2 separate regions of the Homo sapiens genome follow, and region 2 is linked to region 1. The links come from fine-mapping of genetic effects on gene expression. A gene starts in region 1. The other region holds a variant in brackets. All regions are shown on one strand. Distances are from middle to middle. Region 1 holds the start of NOD2 (nucleotide binding oligomerization domain containing 2). Region 2 overlaps LINC02127 (long intergenic non-protein coding RNA 2127).

Evidence for each region. PIP is the estimated chance that this variant, and not a neighbour inherited with it, causes the effect.
Region 2: its variant is fine-mapped to the expression of NOD2 in cerebellum (GTEx, PIP above 0.99).

The regions. Positions count from the first base shown.
Region 1 is chr16:50,688,486-50,696,620 of GRCh38, reverse strand. NOD2 (nucleotide binding oligomerization domain containing 2) reads right to left here and starts at 3,015. Exons shown (of 12, transcript NM_001370466.1): 1 at 2,959-3,015. RefSeq lists enhancers at 92-141, 2,046-2,125, 2,366-2,415 and a silencer at 2,786-3,295.
Region 2 is chr16:51,020,748-51,028,882 of GRCh38, reverse strand. It overlaps LINC02127 (long intergenic non-protein coding RNA 2127), which reads right to left. Exons shown (of 3, transcript NR_110913.1): 2 at 6,607-6,663. LOC107984903 (a long non-coding RNA gene) reads left to right here. Exons shown (of 3, transcript XR_001752172.2): 3 at 364-4,387. Among named protein-coding and RNA genes, the nearest start is that of LINC02127, 7.1 kb to the right of the region's middle. RefSeq lists an enhancer at 5,202-6,483. The variant A/G (reference allele first, on the strand shown) is at 3,455.

The DNA.
Region 1 (8,135 bases):
CAGCTTGGGAAGTTAATCATTATGTCTAGCTTCAGTTTCTCCTGCTTCAGTTTAAATTGGGAAAGAGAGAGAAAAAATATTCACTCATTATCTGTTTCCTAAAATTGTCCTTAACATCCTTCCTCTTACTCCTTTATTACCTGGTCGGGCTTCCCCTCTTCAGGCGAAATCTGTCAGTCTATCTGCATTGCCTTTTGATCTCTACTTCAGTTACTACAACTTCAAAGACACCATTGTCCTCCCCAAGGTGAGGCCCATGTAGAGAAAGGATCACTTCCTTGCTGAAAGAGAGGGTCAAGGGGCGACCCACGTGGGCCCTCCCTGAAACCCAGGCCCAGGCCTGAGCCTGGACACCTCCTTCCTTCCTGAGACCACAGCCAGCCCGGTTTCTCTGGGGCCAAGAGCAAATGCTTTGCTTAAGTGCTGAAATCTCAGCCCACTGACCCCTTGCAGACAGGAGAGGAGGGGAAGCCCAGGGAAGCTCAACTTCCCAAGTGTCCTGAGTCTCTGCTGGGGCCAAGCCCCCCACCCTCCCCCAGCTATCCTGCATTCTCCCTCCCTAACACTGTTCTCTCCCTAAGAGATCAAATCCCCCCACCAGTGCACAATGCACTCTAATTCTCCATTGTAAAAGTAAAGCACTCTCTTGACACTCCCCTTCTTCATTTGGCTCCAATCCCATTTATCTGCTCCCTTTACAGCAGGCCCCCTTGTCTGTTGCCTGTACTGCTGTCCCCAAGTCCTCCCATCCCCTCCCATTCCCTCTAGTTCCCCATCCAGCTCCAGTGAAACTGTCACCAGTGACCTCCCATTGCTCAATCCTCAGCCCTCAGCCTGCTTGCTCTGCCAGGGGCATTGGTCATATTTGTTCCCTCCTTCCTCTTTGGGGCATTTTCTTCATTTCCTCCAGGACACCCCAACTCTCTGATTTTCACTCTTTCTGTCTTCTTGGCTGGTTCCTAACACTGGGGGCCCCAGCACTCAATGGTTAGACCCCTTCTCTTCTCCATATCACTCCATCCCTAGATGAGCCCACCTGCTCTTGTGGCTTTAAATACCAGTTATATGGTGATGATGCCCAAAGTTTTATTTTCAACTCCAACCTCCGCCCTTAACTTTTCCCAACTGCTTACTCATCATTGATGCCTAATGGGCAGCTCAAACTCCACAAGCACAAAACCAAACTCTTGATCTCTCCGCTAAGCAACTCCCATTTCAGTTCATGGCAGCTTCAAACCTCCAGAAGCTCGAGCCAAACACTCAGAATCATCTTTGACTCTACCTTTCTCTTGCACCCCAAACCCTATCGACACGGCCTTTGAAATATATCCCAAATCTGAATGTCTGGTTTTCTTTTTTTTAACCACCTCTGGGCCATGGGCAAGACACCATGGTCTCTCCCGAGAATGACAGCAATGATCCGCTCAACGGGCTCTCCTTCTGCCCTTACCCCACCCCCCCCATGATCCATTCTCCACCCCACAGCTAGATGGGCCTGCCAGACCCCAAGTCAAAGCAGGTGACTCCTCTGTTCCAAACCCGTGCTCCCATCATGCTCAGAGTGAAAACCAAAGCCTCCCAGCCCCCCAGATACTCATGTGGCTCACCCCTCAATTCCTTATGACTTTGCCCAGCTATCGTGGTCTTGGGGAAGCCTTCCCTGGTTGTGCTATATACAATGCAATACCCAGCCCCAGCACCCCATCCTGCTTCCCAGCTTTGTTTTACTCGTAGTACTTCCCGCCACCTGCTACGCCATGTATTTACTTATTTCATTGCTGTCCATTCCTTTCTAGAGTGTGCACTCCATGAGGGCAGGGGGTTTTGTCTGATTTTCCTACTGCTCTGTCTCGTGTCTCATCCAGTGCATGAATGATGACTGCTGGAAAGAATGAAAGAACTGACTTGCTCTGCATGGCTCCGGGAGACAGACATGGAACCAAGGTGTAGAATCTGTAAGCCACAGATTTTAGCTAAAGGAAACAAGAGCTGCAAGGCACTAAAAAGCCACCTCATCAGTAATAAGCTCCCCACCACTGGGCATGTGTCACAGAGGGGCTCTGCACTGGGTAGGAGGGAGGTGGGCTGGATGAGGATGCTTCCAGCCTCAGATCCCAGGGTGCAGCGAGGCAAAGGGGCCTTGAGCAGCCAACAAACTCAGGGGCCCCAGCAGCCCCATGGCTGAGTGATCGGGACAGGCAAGTACAGGTGGTGGGGATGTCACTCTGGTCTTTTTCACTAAGGGGTCAGGGGAGGGTGACAGGGCAGGTGTTTCCCCTCTGTAGAACAAGGACCCTGGAGGAGGCTAGGTCACAGCCCATGGGGAAACCAAGGCCATGGCAGGAGAGGCTCAGAAAGAGCAAACTCAGAAGCAGGGGTCCAGCCCCCAGCCCTCATGCAGCTTCAGGAGGTCCTCCCCAGGGGGATTGGGGTGGAGGGCTTTTCAGTTTGTTGGAATGAAAGCAGGACCAGATGGCTGCTCCATCAACCTGAGAAGCATAGGAGAGCAAACAGCTGGGGGATGTGGCCTCGCAGGTCCTGGTGTGGGCTGTCTGGGAAGGGATGGATTTGAACTTAGATCTCACACCCAACAAGGGAGAAGGAGGAGGCAGGAGATTCCCATAAGAGGTACAGAGAGCAGCAGCAGGATCCTCCAGGCAGACTCTCTCACTTATACCCACCCACTCACTGGCATGGTGAAGCTGGGGAAACTGAGTCCCACAGAGAGGAAGGAAATCAAAAGAGTGGCCCAGGGGCCTCCCCAACCTCGAGATGCCCCCTTTCCGTCTCACTTCCCATCTACATTCTGGGACTCCCCCAGGAGAAACCGAGGCAACCCTTGCCCAAGCCCTGCGGCCAGGACGGCTCAGAAGCCAAGTGTTCAAGTCCCGGGGGTGGGACCCTCGGCGCCCACAGTCTCCCCCCAGCCCACCCCCAGGCGCTGGGCACAGCACTCACCGCGAGCCGCCTGCGCGCCGACTCCAAGGCCCACTCCGGGCCACGACTCCCGGCTCCGGCTCCGGCTCGGGCTGCGGCTCCGGGTGCGCGGGCGCTCGGCTCCGCCCCCGCCCGGACCCCGCCCCTGCTCTGCCGGGACCGCAGCACCCGCTCCTGTCCCGTGGCCCCGCAGCCCCGCAGCCCCGCAGCCCCGCAGCGCCGGCTCCAGGGCTGGCCAGGCTTACCTGGGACAGGGCAGGACCGGGGCTTCCTGCGGGGCTGGACGGCCCTGGCTGTGTGCCCTAGCCAGTGTGCCTCTCTTTCTGGGCCACGTTTCAACCAGGAGGGAATCGGGGAGTCCTCGGAACAACCCGCTTCCCAACACATACACATACACACACACACACACCACACACCACACACACCGCTTCCCAGCACACACGCGCACACACACACACCACACACACACCGCTTCGCAACACACACACACGCCCTGCTTCCCCCCCACACGCAAACATGTTTCCCAATACACACACACAGCCCTCGCTTCCCCCCACACACAAACATGCTTCCCAATACACACACAGCCCTCGCTTCCCCCAACACACATACCTTGCTTCCCAACACTCACATACACACACACACACGCCCTGCTTCCCCCCACCACAAACATGCTTCCCGATACACATACACCCCCTACTTCCAACACACACACCCTGCTTCCCAACACTCACACACACACCACTTCCCAACACACACACACCCTGCTTTCCCAACACATACACCCCACACACACCGCTTCCCAACACACACGTGCACACACACACACACCCCACACACACACCACTTTCCAACACAAACACACACTACACTCCCTGCTTTCCCAACACACACACACCCCACACACACTGCTTCCCAACACACACGTGCACATACACACACCCCACACACACACCACTTCCCAACACACACACACCACACCCCACACACACCACTTCCCAACACACACACCGCTTCCCAACACACACAAACATGCTTCCCAATATACACACACCCCACTTCCCAACACACACACATCGCTTCCCAACACACACATCGCTTCCCAACACACGCCTCACTTCCCAACACACACACACACACACACGCACACACAGCCAAAACTAGGAAAACTTTTCCAGAGTGTGACAGGTTACATGTTAGGTAAGAGTGGACTGGTCATTTAAGGTTCTTTTTTTTCATTTTCCTTTCAGTTTTTCCGTTTATGTTGAATGGAGTTTATTTCTCAGTTTAGTACTAATAGGGTTTGAGTACCTTTCTAGCACTGCCTAGATTACTTGGCTCTGAAACTATCTAATTAGCTTTAATAGCATTGTTTTTGTTTCCATTAAATATATTTTATTTTACATTCTTCTGTTCTCCGGAGCAAATGACACCGGTTTTCCATTTAACATGTTAATGTAAATGTTCCTTTTGAAACTCATATTTGGTTGTTTTAAAAAATGTGAAGTCAATTTTTAAAAATAACGAAAATAACTGGCATCTAGAAAGTGTTTACCATGTGCTAGTCTTTACAGACAGTAACTCAGTTACTTCCACCTCTAGGGTATTGACTATTATTGCCTCTAACTTATAGATGCAGAAACTGAGGTACACATTTGAACTTTGATCTCACGCCCACCAAGGGAGAAGGAGGAGGCAGGAGATTCCCCTAAGAGGTGCAGAGAGCAGCAGTAGGATCCTCCAGGCAGACTCGCTCACTTACACCCACCCACTCACTGGCATGGTGAAGATGGGGAAACTGAGTCCCACAGAGAGGAAGGTACTCAAAAAACAGTGGCCCCCTCTGAGACCTGAAGCCCGGGCTCCTCAGGACTTCTCACTCCTGCCAGGGGCCTCCCCAGCCTCGAGATGCCCCCTTTCCTCTGGCACCAGAGATGGGGATTTGCCCCAGGCCTCTGGCACAGATGAATGCTCTAACCACTACCCCATACCGCTTTCAAGTAAATACCTGTGCAGGTGGTGCACAGTCAGCCAAGGTTGGAAAATGCTGCATTAGAAGGACTGAATCTACCCTAGAAAATTCATTCTGGGCAGCGCACAGAACCATCTACAAGGATGTTCACCACCATCTTGCCTACAGCAGTGAGAAGCTAGAAACCTCCCTAATGCCCAGTAACAGAAAATTAATTAAGAAAACTGACAGAACATCTGAACCTAGAACACTTAACCCGACCCATCTTCTCTCAGCCCCACTATCCAATCTGGGAGCAAATTTTTCAGCTTGGCCTTCAAATATTTCCAAGCTGCAGCCCATTTTTGCCATATGCACCATTACCACCTGGGTCCACATCTCCATCATCTCTCACCTGGGTGATAGCAGGAGTTCCTGGCCATTCTCCACGCCTCCATCTACAGCCCTTCTTCAATCCAGCAGCCAGAGTGAGTCTGTTGGTTTTGCTGTTGTTGTCGTTGTTGCTGTTTTAAGTCAAATTCTATCACTCCTCTGCTGAAACTCTTCTGTTGATGGCTCCCATCCCAAAGTAAAAGCCAAGGTCCTTACAATTGCTGTTTGGCCTCTGGCACCCTCTCTGCCCACCTCTTACACTCTCATCTTACTCACTCTGCTCCAGCTACACTGGCCTCCTGGCTGTTCCTCAAATATGCCAAACCTGCAGTTACACTCAGGCCTTTGCCTTTGCTGTGCCTGGAATGCTCTTTCTTTAGAAATCTACCTGGCTCCCTCCTTCCTCTCCTTTGGGTCTTTGCTTCCATATGACTTTCTCGGCAAGGCCTTCCCTAACTATTCGGTGTACAGCTGCAACACCCTCCAATCCCTTCTCTCCTGCTTTATTTTGTATTTTTCTCCATAGCGCTTATCTGCACACAACACATTATGTATTCTACTTATTTATTGTCTTTGTTGTTGGTCTCTCACCCAAGACAGCATGAGCTCCAAGGGAACAGGGAATTTTTGCTTTGTCCCTTGCCTTCTCCCAAGGCCTAGAACAGGACCTGGCATGCAATAAATCTTTGTTGAGTGAATATACTAAAAATAATGCTGTGGTTCTAATAACCAATGAAAATAAATGAATCACTGTACCCCCACGAGAACTGCAGCCTCACAGACATAATGTTGGGTGAAACAGGCTGAGTGCAAGAGCGTGCATACGGAATGGTATCCTTTCTATAAAGTTCAAAAGCAGGCAAAACTGCATTACAGGTAGGAGCCAAGATAGAGGCTACCACTGGGGAGAAAGTTGGAGGTAGTGACTAGGGGAGGAGTGAAGGGGACTTCTGGGGTGCCAGTAATCTCCTATTTTTACTCTGAATAGTGGTTGCATTGATGCAAATACATTGTGAAACTGACCAAGTTAAACACATGATATTTATATTTTCCTTTATGCTTGTCATATTTCAATAGATATTTATTTTTTAAAGATGCTATAAGTATGTTTATCAGATAGAAAGCTGCCTAGAATATATAAGGCTAAATTTATAAAGTAGACTCTTTTTTGAACGAGGATGCCAAGATGATTCAGGGGGAAAAAAGTGGTCTTTTTAACAAATGGTGCTGGGAAAACTAGATGTCCACATGCAAAAGAACTGAATTTGGATTCCTCCTTCAGGCCTTATACAAAAATTAACCCAAAATGGATCAAAGTCCCAAATGCAAGATTTAAAATATAAAAATCTTAGAAGAAAACATAGGTGAAAATCTTTGTGACCTTGGATGAAGCAATGATTTCTCAGATTTGACACCTAAAGCACAAACAACCAAAGAAAAAAATAGATAAGTTGGACTTTATCAAAATTCCAAGCTTTTGTGCTTTGAAAGACATGATCAAGAAAGTAAAAAGACAACCAACGGAATGGGAGAAAATAGTCACGACTCATATCCAGAATATATAAAGGACTCCTGAAACTCAATAACAAACAACTTTTTAAATGAGCAAAGGATTTGAAAATGTTCAGAGAACGTATGTAAGTAGCCAACAAGCACATGAAAAGACGCTCAACATCATTAATTGTTAGGGAAATGTGAATCAAAGCCACCATAAGATACCACTTTACACTCACAAAGGTGCCCTTAGTCCAAAGGACAGAAAACAAGTGCTGGAAATAATGTGGAGAAACTGGAAGCCTCATACATTGGTGGTTAGAGCGTAAAGTGGTGAAGCCACTGTGGAAAATAGTTTGTGGGTTCTTCATAAAGTTAAACATGGTGTTACCATATGATCCAGCAATTCTACTCCTAGGTATACTCAACAGAATTGAAGCATATATGCACACAAATGCTTGTACACAAATGTTCATAGCAACATTATTCATAAGAGGAAAAAGTGGAAGCAAACTAAATGTCCCTCAGCTGATGAATGGATAAAGAAAATGTGATCTATCTGTGCAATGGAATATTATTCAGCTGTGAAAAAAACAAAGTACTGATAAATGCTACAACATAAATGAACCTTGAAAACATTATGCTAAGTGAAAGAAGCCAGTCACAAAATGACATCTATTGTGTAAGTCCGTTTACATGCAATGTCCGGAATAGGCAAACCCATGAAGACAGAAAGTAGATTTGTTGGTTGCCAGGAACTGAGAGGAGGGAGGAATGAGGAGTGACTGCTAGTGGGCATGAGGTTTGGTTTTTGTTTTGTTTTGTTTTGTTTTGTTTTTGCATGATGAAAATATTCCGGAATTAGATCATGGTGATGGTTACACAACCTTGTGAATGGACTAAAAACCAGTGAATTACACACCTTAAAAGGGTGAGTTTTATGGTATGTGAATTATATCTCAATGAAAAACAGTTGGGCTGCCAAATGCTTTGTGTAGAAAGAATATAAGGCTAAATTTAAAGAGTAGGTTGTTTTTTAACAAGGATGCCAAGATAATTCAAAGGGGAAAAATGATCTCTTTAACACATGGTGCTGGGAAAACTAGATATCCACGTGCAAAAGAAATGAATTTGGACTACTACCTCATACTTTATACAAAAATTCTGTAATAGATATGTGTGAATATATGCATTGAAACATCTAAAAGACAAGTTAGGATCGGATTTTAACTGGACTTTTAAAATTCTTCTGTGTTAACCTGTATTTCCTAATAAGCATAATTTACTTGTTTAATAATAATTTTTTAAAACTTTCCAATGAGTTAAGGGATATTGATTAAAAACTCCCTGTGTGCAGGGC
Region 2 (8,135 bases), 330 kb before region 1:
ATAATAATAATAAAATAAAGAAAAGTACTCAAGTTTCTAGGTTATCCATGGCTTAGTTTCTAGTGCTGATAGAGATTTTCTTTCTTTCTTTTCATTTTTTGTTTTTTAATTTGGTTATAATAAGGTTTGGAGAGGCAAGGGAAGTAAACAGATAAACTCGAATCGCTTTCTGAAAATGGAAGCCACAGTTTGTTCTTGATTCCTTCTGACAACTTGAATTAACAGACTTGGAAAATTTTCTCTTGCGTCTTGCAGTAACTCAATTCAGTTGGGAGGCACCTGTGGTCCTCCTTGTTGTGAACAGTTCTGTCTTCTCATGCGCCTGTGACTTTTCTTTGCTTCTCTTCACTAACCCATTGCTAGGAGTTCTGTCAGAGATTGTGCGGTTCCCTGTGTGAATAATTCAGGCCACGACGATGGGAGAATGGAATGGATTAAACTGGATGGAGTTCTCTTTGGCTGATTCGAAGATCTAGATGCTGAAGGAAGAAGAGGAAGCTAGAAGAGGCCAGGGTAAGGAGGTCAGCCTGAACGGGAGTGGTGGCAGGAAGTTTGGACTCCCTGCTCAAGGAGTGTTTTCAGTGTTTGGTATTTGCACTGGGGGTCTTTCTATTGTGAACACAAAGCCCAACTTAGAGGGAGGTAACTGAGGAAGGGAAACCGAGGAGTAGTTCTGGTTTCAAGTAGAGCTGAATTTAAAGTCAAAACAACATCCTTGACAATCCAGTTTCTATCGCTTCCGTGTGCTTCCTGCTGTGTTAGATTGATTCTTGGGCTCACTGTAGTGGCCCCTAAAACTTCTGGGTGATAAAGTGGCTACAACAGCTCCAGCCTCACCCCTCCTCCTCCCATCAGCTCAATTCCAACAGCATAGAGCTTGGATCTTTCCCTTGGTTTCCACTAAACATTTTTTTAAATTAATAAGAGCTTTATTGAGATGTAATTTACATACCATACAGTTCACTCACTTAAAGTAAAATTCAGTGATTTTAGTATATTCATGGAATTATACAACCATCAGCACAATCAATTTAAAAAAAAATTCATCACCTCAAAAAGAAACCCCATTCCCATGAGCAGTCACTCCCCATCCTCCTTTCTCCCAGCCCTAGGTAACCATGAATCCACTCTCTGTCTCTATGGATTTGCCTGTTCCGGACATTTCATACAATACGTGGTCTTTTGCACTAGGCTTTTTTTACTTTGCATGATGATTGAGAGGCTCACCTATGTTGCAGCGTGTGCCTGAATCTTATTTCTTTTCATGGCTGAATAATACTCCATTGTATGGATTCATCACATTTTGTTTATACATTCACTGGTTGAAAGATACTTGGTTTGTTTCCACCTTTTGTTTATTACAGTGCTGCTGGGATCATTTGTGTGCATTATGTGAACATTTGGTTTCATTTCTCTAGGGTAGGTATTGAAGAGTGGAATTGCTGGGTGACACAGTTCACCTTTTGAGAAACTGGCTGTTTTCCAAAGCAGCTATACTATTTTACACTCACATCAGCAGTGTCTAAGGGTTCAGTTTCTCCACTTCCTTGCCAGTCTTGTTGAGATCTCTCTATTTGGCTGTAGCCATGCTTGTGTTGTGCAGTCATATCTTATTGTGGACTCCCACTAAACTTTTGAGAGCCTTTCTGATTGGACCACCCTGGGTGGTGAGACCATTCCTGAATCAATCACTGTGTCAAGGTCCATTTAGTGCTGGATTGACCAGACCTGAGTCAAGAACCTCATCCTGGAGATCCTTCCAGACCATGTGGACTCAGAATGAAGAGAAGGGTTGACTCCAAGTTCAAAATCAGAGTCATTACTAGGGTAAGAGGATCTGGGATGCTGGGAAAATGAGAATTCATGTCTACTAAAGCTCAGCCACCAGCAGTCTGCTGGGGCTGTGCCCTGACCCAGGCCTGGTGGAAGTTGGCTTCAGAGTTTAGTCCCAAGGAATTGCTGGTCTGGTCTGGGGGTCCCCTTCACTGTGCCCCTGGCACCATGGCCACTTATCCATGGCACTGACCAGTTTTAGAGGCTTTAGCCCACTCTCACCTCCAGTTTTCACTGCAGCAGGGCTGTTGGTGAGGATCTGCAAAGACAGTTTTGAAATTTCTATCAAACAGACCACTCCTTCCCATTGTGGAAATAATGAATTCTTCAATCTGGCCCATCTGCCGTGTATCTAACAGATGTTCCTCAGACCTCCTGGCCTATAAATACCACCCTTTGCTAATATCCAGTATGGATAAGTTTTTTCTTATTTTTATATACAGTTGGTCATTTTCTGGGGAATCTGGGAGATAGATAGGTATGTGCTTATGTTGTTGTCTTCCCGCACTAGAGAAGTAACTCCAGCGTGCTTCCTGGAAACAGCTTATGACTCAAGCTATCTATTTCAAGACTGGGTTAAAAATGATGCTACTTCTACTAAAAATACAAAAATTAGCCAGGCATGGTGGTGTGATCTTGTAGACCCAGCTACTCAGGAGGCTGAGGCAGAAGAATCACTTGAACCAAGGGGGCAGAGGTTACAGTGAGCCAAGATCATGCTACTACACTCCAGCCTGGGTGACAGAGGGAGTCTCTGTCAAAAAAAAAAAAAAAGGTGATGCTACTTCAAAACACATCATGTCTCATTGGACACTCTCCACATGGTCAATAATATAATAGAAGTCAGGTGTCACCTTCTAAACAATGAAGGTTTACTACATGGTGGGCACTATGGAAAACATTTTCATGTATTACCTCATTTAATCATGAAATCCCCATGTTATTCTCACATTATAGGTAAGGAAACTGAAGCTCAGAGAAGTTAAGTGACTTGTCAAAAGTCACACAGTAAACCACAACGATTCACATGTAGTGCTAAAATTTTTAAGTGACCCTGCCTGCCACTGTGATTTTTCCCATCACTTTATCTGTCCAGACCCTCCTCCAATCCTGCAGAGCCTCCCTGTGAATATGAGAAACCCATCCCCCGACCTGCTCCTTTCTGGTTTGGCCATCATCAGGGTCTGCCTGGCCTCTGGAGTAATCTGCTGTCTGGCTCCCTGACCCCAGTCTTGCTTCCTGCAATCCATCCTTTGCCCTCCAGCCAACATGAACTTTCTCCAGTGCAACACTGATTGTATCACTGCCTGATTCAAAAGGCTTCAAAGCCAAGAGTTGAAAACTCCTCAGTGCAGGGCACGGCCAGGCTCCTGTGATGCTGTCTCTCTTGCTGCCTCCACACCCTCTGCTCTGCTGCTCGTGTGAACCATTTGCAAGTCCATCAATGCACCATGCTGCTTCTCACTTCTGTCTTTGCACCACTTGTCATTTTGTCTTCTTACCTCTGTCCCCACCCCTTACCCCTCACCAGTTTTACTTCTCTGTGCTCTTCATCCTTCAAGGCCAAGTCTATGTAGCAGCCCGTAGAAGAATACACTTCTTCAAAACCACCACCACAGAC[A/G]TAGCCACCAGGCCTTTAGTCAGGGATGCAATGGCCTTGTAGCTTTGAATCACACCAGCCTACCTGGTTGACCTGCTTACTAGGTTGTCCTCAGAGTCAGAATAGAAAGACTGCTATGGTCATCTGGTCGACCCGAAACCCTTTTCTTAATAGAGATCAAAGCTTAACCCATATTCCATATGGCCCAGCTCATGTTCCCTGGACCATTTCAACAACCCAGGCATAAGGAGCCTTGGCCAGTTTTTCCATCTGCAAATTGAAAGGGAATGTTTCTCCCAGATAATCTCCCAGGCCCTTTTCTACTCTAAATTTCAAGATTGCACGTACTGTCTTATCTTAGGGTCTACAATGAGTTAAACATGATCTCACATTTCCCCATCTCTCTCTGTCTCCTTGCCCCTTGTTCCTTGTTTACTTTCGGGGTACAGCCTGCTCCTGGAAAGTCGTCTGGGCTGTAAGGAGTGGTTACTGCACTTCCATTATTCATGAGTCCCAGGGCCGGCAGTCCTGCAGTTGGAGGATTTGAGCCACGGGTCCCCAGCAGGCTGCATGTCCTACTTGAGCAGGAATAAAAGGCCAGGTTGGATGCCTGCAGGAAGGGTAAACAAACCCATACGCTTTCTACAACAAAAAAAGAAAGAACGAATGAAAAGAAATATTGATTATGTGGCATTGAAGTGCCTGGGGCTTTAACAGACATTCAAAATTGGATGCATTGCTCAAGATCAATAGTAGGTTTTATGCTTCTGACCTAAAAAGTACCAGCTCTATGTAATTTAAACACTGACAGCCACAAGGATATCTCCTAGCATCTGGCCTGCTTTCCTCAGGTACCCCGGACACATCGGCTGGCTTCTCTGCAACCATTTTCCTTTTCTTTGTTTTTTGCGCCGGAAGATGACAGTGGATAAATAAAAGGATTATTTTCGGAAATGTGGAATCAACTGCTTCTGATATCATTGCCTGAAATGATAACCTCAGACAGCGGTGTTGCATGGCTGAAGATGGGGAGGTCAGCTCGTTGACAGGAGGCAGGGAACAGGGGTGGGTTTCTGAGGTTGGAAATGAAGGACAGGAGAGGTGAGTGCTTCCCGGCCAACCTCCCAGGCCTGGGGCTATGCTAGGTGCACACAGGTTCTCCCCCTTGTCTTTGTGCCAGCCCATGGGATGGGAGGTGCCCGGTTTACAGAGGAAAAAACACAGTAACTTTCTTGATTGAGTGGGGATTTGGCTGCAACTAAGGGGGTGGCCAGATGATTTCTAGGGGAACATTTGTGTCTAAGAATTTTTATACGTGCATATGCCCACGTATGCAGACACACACTCACACATACTTCTTGTTGGCTGGGGGACAAACAGAAGCAGAAGAGGACAGTCACTGTTATGGCAATGGGCTCTGACGGCCTGAGATTCCATCCTGACTCCATCAATTATTAGCTCTGACTTGAGACCAGTTACTTAGTTTACCTTTCTCTCAGTTTCTTCATATGTAAAATGGAGGTGATAATCATAATTAATAATAATAATATCTACAGTTTAGGGTTCTTGGGAAGATTAAAAGGGTCTCTACAGGTAAAATTTAGCATGGAACAAGCACACGATACGTGTTAACGAACTTTAGTAACCAGTAGGCAGGCAGGTTTGGCAGAGAATGTGGCTGTTTCAGGTTGCCAGGATGCAGGTTGAGATGTTGATTTCAACAGCGAGTCCAGTTCAGCAGGGCCGAGGTGGGCCAACACCCACCCCAACATCCCAGGCACATGCACACAGGTAAAGCATAGCACCAGCCTTTCAGGAGGTAGGTTCCTACCTGTGGCTCCAGCTGCCCTCACCATATCTCAGGCAGTGCCCTTGGGTCCTCACTGGAGCGGGCACCTTAAGTGGGTGAGCCTGCAGCTTTTCTGGGTGCCTGATTCTCTTAACCCCCACCCAGAGACAATCTGTGGCCCTTCTGTGCTGGCTTTGTTTATGGGCACAGAGTGCATATGTTGGGCAGAGTTGTGTAAAGTTCTCTTTCCCCCCCTTAATTTTGTGGCAGGATAAGACAGTTAATCTGTTTTGACATGCTATCTAAATGGCCCTCAGATCAGTGTACGGAAGAAACCATCCATAAGTCATGTCTTTTATACACATGTACTGGTGTGTACAAGAGGGAGAGTTATATTGGCTGCGAGAGGCAGAATAATAATGGCCGTTATTATGGCGATTTCAGGGTCGCCACATTCACTCCACATATCAAATCCTCTTTCAATGAGGCCAGTTCCATCAGCTGTCAGATTCTATTAAATATATCCCTCAGACCCACTGACCAGCTGACAGGAGAGAAACTCAAAACCACACACCCCCCATTAGCATCATAAAATGTGAAGTCAGCTGGAAGGGATGATAACAGAACTGAAAACAGAAGAGATGAAAATCTGCAATGCTCTTGTGTCCTCCTAAATAGAAACTCCAAGAGTTACAAACAGACCCATAAAATACCAAGGTGAAACAACAACAACAGAAACAAAAACATGACAAAGATCATCCTGTTGTATGCTTCATAACATAGAATGGTTCTTTTACCTTTTGTTAATGTGAGATTTGCATAAATGTTTCATGAGGTTAATACAATGCATAAACCAAAACGTTTATTAGGCAACATCTGTGCTGTTTTCCCAGATAATGCAGTGTTTCTTCCAAGTCAATGAAATATAACCTATCATAAGGTTGGGTTGTTAAAATACTTGTGCAAAGGCTGTGATCATATTTTATGCTTTTGCAGATGCTCTGGTTCTACCAGAGAATTTCTTAATCAGACAAGAGCTTAAGATGGCTGGCACCTTAAAAGAAGGTGTAGAGGTTCTCTTGGAGACAGAGCAAGAGAGGAGAAGAAAGATTTCTATGAGTTGACTAGATTTGCTTCTCCATTTCTTCAATCTAGCTTTCTAAATTTGGATTTGTTTGCAGAGATATTCGCTTAATACTTGAAGGAAAAAATAATTAGATCTGTACTTAGAATCTACCAAGAAGCAGAGAGTGGGTCAAAATGCCCAATGACTTTATGCAGCTACAATCCTATCACAATATTGGTTCCATATGGGACTCTTTAAAGGGAAAAACAAAAAAAGTTATGAGACCAATAATTTTTAATGAAATTTGGCTTAGCTCACAAGCAAGTCCAACAGATGAAACAGCAGCCCAAGCTGGAAACATGATTTTTCTTCTTCCTGGCAGGGATGAAAGAAAGCATTGTTTCAATTAAGAAAGAACCTAATAGAGATATGTTTTGTATTATCAATTTTACACAAGTAAAGATTTAGACATTGTCTCTCTCTCTCAACATCTTTGAGGGAGTCCTTCTCTTTCTCTGATGGCTGTGTGAGATCGTTTTAAATGTGGGAGGCTTCCTGACCCTGCTTTTTGGGTTGGACTTTTGATGGAAAGTTTTAGTAAAAAATTGTTGAAAGCTCTTGTCTCCATCAATTTGGGGCAGATTTTGGAGGTAGAGAAAGTTACCAGAAAATGAGGATGGCAGTCTATCTATCACCTATCTGTCTATCTATCTATTATCTCTCTACCTCACTGTAGCATGAGATTTCCCAGTAGTGAAATTTTGGGCTAGATAATTATTTATTGTAGGGGGCTGCCCTGTGAATGGTATGATGTTCAGCAGTTTCCCTGGCCTCTACCCATTAGATGTCAGTAGCATTCTTCCCCCAGTTTGTGACAACCCCAGAAGCCTCTAGATATTGCCAAATGTCACTTGGAAGGTAACACTGCCCACCAGTTGAGTGTTTTAGTATTTTCCATGAAACACTTAGACATTTGTTTACTGCCATATCTGAGTGTCCTGTGTAGGATTATTTGCTTAAGGACAAAGGTAACTTTTTATTTAGGTAGCATCTGAGTCTGCTCATATCTAGTGGCCTAGCTCTGTCTGGGTTGGAAAAACTCCATATGTCAGAACACAGAAGAAGAATACGAGTTGTAAATGGCAGCCCATGCTGCCCATGCCACTGTGGAATGAAATGAGCTACAGAAGGAACCTCTTGTCCAGGTTCCTGCCTTCAGATGAAACAACTAGGCTCAAAGAGAGTTGGTTCAGCCATTACAAGTGTTCAACTGGGGTGGGGGATCTTCCCGGCACCTCCACCTTGTCTCTGCCTTGCGCATCACTCCATTTTATATTTTCTTGAGCTCTTACTGCTATTTGAAATGATCTTGCTTATTTATGTGTATACTTATGCCTCTATTTTCAATTGACTGTCTCCCCCACTAGAATGCAAACTCCATGAGAATAAGGACTTTACTTGCTTTAAGTGGCAATGTAGCCCTTTATACAAACTTAGGGGCTTTAGTGTCAGACTCAAGATCTGCTGCTTATTAGCTACACTGACTTTGGGCAGCCATTTAGCTTCACTAATCTATATTTTCCTTCTCTGTAGAATAATAATAATAATAATAGGATTGGTTCCTATCTGATGGAATTAAATGAGATCATACTTAACACATAATACGTGCTCCACAAATACAAGCTCTTATTGCTCAACCACCATAATTATACCTAACACAGTGGTTCCTGGCATGGAAAGAAACACAATAAATATTAGTGAAGTAAACGAATGAATGAATGAACAAATTCCCTTGTGTCTGTCTCTAATTTTATTTTATTTTTTTAAGATGGAGTCTCACTCTTGTC